2 linked regions of the Homo sapiens genome follow. The protein of the gene in region 1 purifies or fractionates together with the protein of each later gene. This does not show direct contact. Each region holds a gene or a part of one and is shown in the gene's direction. Other genes may lie near its edges.

The links. Proteins that work in one complex are often made in the same cells at the same time.
Region 2: the proteins of MIX23 (region 1) and PITPNA fractionate together in Homo sapiens (co-fractionation; one large-scale study listed by BioGRID). This does not show direct contact.

What each region holds. Positions count from the first base shown.
Region 1 is NC_000003.12:122,366,232-122,369,731, reverse strand, and holds part of MIX23 (protein MIX23), read left to right. Parts: intron 1-1,409; coding exon 1,410-1,556; intron 1,557-3,500.
Region 2 is NC_000017.11:1,556,293-1,559,792, reverse strand, and holds part of PITPNA (phosphatidylinositol transfer protein alpha isoform), read left to right. Parts: intron 1-1,233; coding exon 1,234-1,264; intron 1,265-3,500. UniProt on the Homo sapiens protein: Catalyzes the transfer of phosphatidylinositol (PI) and phosphatidylcholine (PC) between membranes. Shows a preference for PI and PC containing shorter saturated or monosaturated acyl chains at the sn-1 and sn-2 positions.

The sequences.
Region 1 (3,500 bases):
TTAACAGGCCCTGTGAGAATCACAAGTTGTTGTTTTTTATCTCCTTGTTGAATCAGGATAAGCTTGCATACTAAATTTAGAACTCTTCTGTTTTGGAAATCCTGTGTGTGTGTTTGAGTTTTTCTCTGTATCTATATCCTGGAAGGATTCAGCAACATGTATATCAAGTAAAGCTTAATTTTTCAAGTAGCTTTGTGCCAGGGATCGAGCCTGCAGCAGAGTGCCCATACCAATAAGCACCACTGAGTTCCCTTAAGTATTATGTCAGTCAAGAAGCAGAACTCTATGAAATATCCAAGTTGCTCATGTTCACCCTGACTTTAATCCCTGACCCAGCTTCCTTCTGTAGCTGAAGAAGGGATATTTGCCTTTTCAAATAACGCTTCTTCCTAGGAGTTGATCAGTAAGGTTATTATGAAGCACTCATTTTAGAAATTTCAAATCTCAAAAGTATACTCAAGGTAAAACTTGTAAATTTCAATGAGATCTTATTAGAGCATATTCCCTTCAATCTATGACATTTTTCTAGCTTTACATTGTTTATTCCCATGGTAAACATAAAAATCAATACTGAACAATAGAGTCTATGAACTTGAAACAATGTTTAACAAATGCAGATTTTGGGGTATTATCAAAATGTGGCTATGATTATGGAAGTATGTTTGAAACATGACCATGATACTTTAGAATCAAGATGGGAAATAAATGAGAAATGTTTTTATTAATTTGTTGCATTAAGATGGAGGTTATCAAGAGTTGTTCTGTCAGACATCCTTAATTTCAATAAGCACACACAATTGATGCAACCACTAATCTGTGCTTCATATATAAGTTTTCCTTATCAATACTTATATTTTATAATCTTGAAAAGGGCTCTGTCTTGCGAAGGTAAAGGTAGCATTCTTTGTTATTTATTGTAATGAAATCTTCTATACATGACTTAGTTTATAATTTCTTTCACTTGTTGACAATGTGAGACAGGAAAAAATATGAAAGGACAAAGAGAGGAAGAATAGCCGTTTAAGTGGCCAGGTGTGTGCGGGTGGTTGTAGAATAGAGGAACACATGAATGGAATCATGGGGAAAGTCAGTGGTGTAGGGCAGAGGAAACTGAAGTGAGAAAAGCCCAGCTTGGGGAATGCAGAAGGAAAGCTGAAGTCAATACCAGGAGCATATTGAGGAAGAGGACAGCCCCAGACCTCATACCTTCCACCCTCAGAGATGCTGCCAGTTATGTTTTTAGATGAGGTAGCTGATTCAACACAATCTTCTCTTTCATGGTTTCAGTCGTCAGAAATTGTTTTAGAAAGTATTGAATTTCTATAGTCTCAAGGATTTTTTTGAAAAACACTAAAATGTGATAAATTTATGCAGTTTTTTTTTCTCCTTTCATTCCTTTGTTCTTTTAGTTGATGGCAGCTCATGCCAGTAGAGACAGAGTCATAAAAAACTGTATAGCCCAGACTTCAGCAGTAGTAAAAAACCTCCGAGAAGAGAGAGAAAAGAATTTGGACGATTTAACGTTATTAAAACAACTTAGAAAAGAGCAGACAAAGGTAAGTTGAACAGAATTAACATTTCTCAGGCAAAGTTTTTCCAATTGTAGCCTTCAAAGTAAGATTTTTAATATGAAAATTTTGGCATATAATATGGCAGTTACTTAAAAAAATGATCAAGAGATTAGTGCTTCATTTTTAGTGAGCTTTATTTTATTATGTTTAGTTATTAATTGGTAAATTAATGTGCACTTCTTGAACAAATGCAGCATAGCAGCTTTGTCTAAAATAAGCACAGTCATAATTTATTTTCATTTCTTTGTTTCTTTCCCACTATTAAAGACAAGGGATCACTACAGGTGAAGTACCACATCAGAAATTCTGGGGAAATCACATCTGTACAGTATCTGCCTTTTGAGACATAACCTGAGAAAAACATCTCTAATATATTTTGGAAATAGCTCCAGTTTCATTGTGTAGAAATCTGCTGAAATGTAATATAGACTATTTAACTTCAGGATATTACCCTCGTTAGCCATAAAAATATAGTATGATTTAAATATAACCAGATTTACTTGTACCTCATTATAATTTATTTCCCTACTGTGTAAAAGTTGCTAGGGATCTTTGGCTTTTTCTTGGACATGACTTTTTCCCATTTCCTCCCCTATCCCTGCAGTGTTTTTACTTTTAAGAAAATAGCAAGTACCTACCTAGGGATGTGTCAGAGGAAGCCTTATTTTCCCAAATCAACTATAATGTAGATAGGGTGTAGACTTCAGAATACAGTTAATGCAGCAGAACTGTTTCTTTACAGCACTTGTATGTGACGTGTCAAGGAAACAATAGAAAAATACAGCATATTTTATTATGTGGGATTTATTGCTGTCTTTCTTTTGAGGGGACTCTTAGGGGGTAACTTTTTATCTTGTATAATTTCAAACTTACCAAAAAGTTGTAAGAATAGTGTAAGGAACTCCCATGTGCCCTTTACCTATATTCACTTATTGTTTATATGTTGCCCCACCTGCTTTACAGTTCATTCTCTTCACCCTCCCTCTCTCCTTCTCTTCACCCTCCCTCTCTCCTTCTCTTCATCCTTCCCTGCCTTCCTCCCTCTCCCTGTCTCCCCACACACCTGTATGCATAAATACAGTTTTTTCATGAACCATTTTGAGACTATGTTATACACATTGTACCACTTTACCCTTAAACTCATTAGTTATTTCTAAGAACAGGGACTTTTCCTACAGGACCAGTGTACAATTATCAAAATCATGGTTTTTTTTTTGTTTTTTGAGATGGGGTCTCACTCTGTCACCTAGGCTGGAGTGCAGTGTTGCAATCTCAGCTTACTGCAACCTCTGGTTCTGGGGCTCAAGCAATCCTGCCTCAGCCTCCCCAGTAGCTGGGACTACGGGCGCGAACCACCACACCCAGCTTATTTTTTGTATTTTGGGTAGAGATGGAGTCTCACCATGTTACACGGGTTTATCTCAAACTCCTGAGCTCAAAGTGATCCACCTTCCTCAGCCTCCCAAAGTGCTAGGATTATAGGTGTGAGCCATCACACCTGACTTCATGTTTGTATTTTAAGATGGCATAATAGGTGACTTACGGATCCTTGTGGGATTGAGTCATGCTTTTCATACTGCACAGTCATGAAGTTTGCCCTTTGTTTAGTAGATGTAGCTGAACTTTGAAAAGGGGACCTCGTCATCTATTGAAAACTATTAGTAGAAAAGAAAAGAAACCTCTTTCCTTGTAGCTGGCTGCACACAAGGTGAGTAGGCCAGGCTGCTGCACTTTTTCGATCATTCCGCCAATTCTGGATGTCTCACTGGATCCAGGACTCAGCCACTGTCTTTGCTGCTCTCTTTGTTCATGACTACTGCGTCAGGTCTGTATTCCATACCTGCTCATGCCACAGGCACTGGTGGATCCCTTGGACAGTGACCTTATGCAGTGATGTTGATCTTACTCCCCTTGCTGTTCATGAAGGCA
Region 2 (3,500 bases), on another chromosome or scaffold:
TTCCTGCTACTTTCCTGCTTGGTGTCTTGCCTTTGAGGTGATGTTTTCCTCAGACCCCTCTGTGTCCTTCTTGCTTCCTGGGGGACCTTTGTGGAACTAGAAAATAGCTGTTTACTAGCCTGGAGCAAGGAGCCTGAGTGGTGAGCCGGCTGCATAAGGAAGGCACAGCAGCTCATGCTTCCCTAATGCTTCACTAAACATGCAAGACACAAAAGGACCCAGAGGGCTCCAGCAAGGGTCTGGGGACCGAACGTCTAAGCTTGGAAACTGGCTGGACTTGTATGGGTAAAACCAAGAGTTTTTGTCTTAGCTCTCCCGCCTCACAGCTTTGAACTGGGGGTGGCTCTTGGTCTGCATTTCACATGCACGGCACCTGGAGAAGTGCTGCTAGCCCTGGCACCTCTGTGGGGTTCTGGCCCTGGCGGAGACTTTGCCGGCCACGGCTTCTCCAATAGGTTGCTGGTGGCATCTCCAGCAATTGGTGGTCATTGAGTTGGAGAAGAAGAAAAGAAAATGATAAATTGGGATTCCTTTGGACAGCTCCTGGAGGTCAGGACATAAGTTGAATGCCCTCTTGGTGGCTTTGTGGTAGCAGCTTGGATTGTAATATCCAGCCCCGAGCAGAGATGCCCGGTGTGTGTTCTTAGGCTTCAAGGGGCTTGGTCCCTTCCTGGCCCTTCCCCTGGAGGGCTGTTGTTGGGAGGTTGGGTCCACAGAAATTTAAGTCCCCAGGGCCTCTTGTTTGGGTCTGAATCCTCACCATGATAGGTCCTCCTGTGTTAACCTGTCTTACTAGACTCACTGGCAAGTCTTGTTGGGGGGACGACTCATTGGCAAGTTTGGGTGAAGTTTATCATCCATATGTCCAGTTCCGAATGTGAGGTGGAGGCCTGGGAAGTAGCTGGCGGGAGGATAGGTTTGGACTGAATCACAGGGTTCTAACTGGGATGCCTCAAGGTACAGAGGGTCCTGTCCTCAGAGCACTAAGAGGGCCATTCTCTGGGGGGGGGGGCGGGGGGGGGGTGTTGTCACAGAGTTTAGTGTCTTACACCTCTAGGGCACAGAGGGTCCTGTCCTCAGAGCACTCAAAGGGCCATTCTCTGTGGGGTTTTCGTCACTGAATTTAGTGTCTTACACAATAGAATGCTGCTGACTGTTTTAGGATGATGCTTTAAAGAGCCTTGAGCAGATTGCACAGCCTAAAGTTGATACTCTCTTTTCCCTTTCTTATAGTCGAGTAATCCTGCCTGTGTCTGTAGATGAGGTAAGTCCTTTTACTTTCTGGTCCATAGTTGTGTGTAACTGTTTGTGACCATTGGCTAAGCTGGGCTCTGAGTGGTTATCCTGTTTATATAGTTTTCTTATTTGTTCTAACATAAATATTTCAATGTGAATTTCGTGGTGCCACTTTCAGTTGAAAAATGGCACTTACTTTGTATATCTGGGTAACTGTGTGCAACCTGTCCCAAGCTGTTGGTATGCTGGATGAGTAGAGATTAAACCAGCCCCTTTTATCTGCTGGGGCTGTGCATGTCTGGGGACCCTTTTTTTTTTTTTTTTTTGAGACGGAGTCTTGCTCAGTTTCCCAGGCTGGAGTGCAGTGGTGCGATCTCCGCTCACTGCAACCTCTGCCTCGTGGGTTCAAGCTATTCTCCTGCCTCAGCCTCCCAAGTAGCCGGGATTACAGGTGTGTGCCACCACACCCGGCTAATTTTTATATCTTTAGTAGAGATGGGCTTTCACCATGTTGGCCAGGCTGGTCTCAAACTCCCGACCTCAAGTGATCCGCCCGCCTCAGCCTCCCAAAGTGCTGGGATGACAGGCGTGAGCCCCCACACCCGGCCGGGGACGCATTATTGATGGGATCAAGTGTGTGCATTTCTGGGACGTCCGTGACTCGGCTGGCAAGTGTGCGTGGCTCTTTCTGGTTGTGCAACAAACCAGCAGGGCAGGAAATCTCTTGAGGCTCTCCCTAGCCACGATAGGTGACTGCTGGAAAGACCAAGACACAGAACCCTCCTTTTACGAAGGGCAGGGAATAACACATAGGCTTGGCTTGTCCTCTGTCCTTTTACGGTTCCTGGGTCTGACATCCTTGTATGTGGGGATCTGGCAGCAGGATTTGCTGTAAGAAGGTTCATAGGCCATGCTGACTCAGAGTCAGTCTCTTGGACAACGGAAAACTGTCACGGAACCTCCCTTGTCTCACTCTTTCTCTGAACTTCTTCCACTCTCCTCTCCTGGCGCAGCCTTGTTCTTTGCTTCCTTCTGAAATCACAGCCCCACCCCGCCCCAGCTTCCAGTTAAACTCGAGTTTGGGTGAGGTTCGTCAGCCAGTATAGTGCCTCCAGTCACTGGGCTCCGTCTCTCTTTCCTGCAGTGTCAGCATGAAGCTCCTGTGATAACTTCCACTCTGTTCCCAATATGAACTGCACCTTTGAAAAATGAAATCAGGCCAGCAGAGCCTGCAGCACATTTAGTTGAGACAGACATCCAGGCTTGTTGGCCCCCGAGAGGGGTGGGCAGACACTGGCCCTTTAGAGGACTGCCTCCAGGGGTGGGCTACATATCTGATAAGAGCTGTGGGGACCTGGGGAGGGGGCCAGAGGTGGGCCTTGACCGTGATCTTGGGGTTCTGGGAAGGGCAGAAAAGAGAAACGAGACTGGGGAACCTGGGAACCAGGGAGAATGAGGGAATGGCTGGGTAGATGGCTCTAATCCCTGTAGGCACTGGGGATGTACCTGGGGCCTGAGAACCAGGTGCCTGGGCTGACAGGTGTTGGCTTGGAAGGGTCTTGTTAACCCACCTGCTTTGGCCATGCTGTCTTTATTTTTTTTATTTTATAATATTTATTTTAAATAGTGGAGATAGGGTCTCACTCTGTTGTCCACGCTGGTCTTGCCTCAAGTAGTCCTCCTGCCTCAGCCTCCCAGAGTGCTGGGATTACAGATGTCAACCACTTCACCCAGCCTGTGCTGTCTTTATTGAAAATAGCAAGCGATGATTTTCCAAACCAGAAGGCCAAGCAGGAAAGCCCAGCGCGTCCCTTGCCCTCAAACTCAGCTCTTGGGGAGGTGTCCAGTGACGTCCTCTCTGCTGTACAGGATGATCCCACCCCGATCGTTAGGAAGATGTGCCCCAGGAACTCGGGATTTCCTTAGTGTGGTGATTAGGGGTGAAATGGATCCTTTGATAGGGAGTTTCTTGATGGAACGAAGGGCGAGAGTGTCTCTGAGAAGTGCTGCAGACCAAGGAGGGCCAGCCTGTCCTGGAGCACCTGGGGCTGTTCTTGGAGTAAGGCTGAAGGGCCAGACACTGATGGCTTATGGTGGGGCCAAGACTGGAAGGAAAGGGGAACTTCCACCTTGAGAGCATCCACAGTTGGCGGGTGTTCACTTGTGATGGTTTTTCTGCAGCATTGAGGAAGTGGTGGGGCGGAGTTGAGTAATCAGAGCCTGAAGTCTAAGCAGAAGCTTGGGAAGTGAGTGCTGATCAGGAT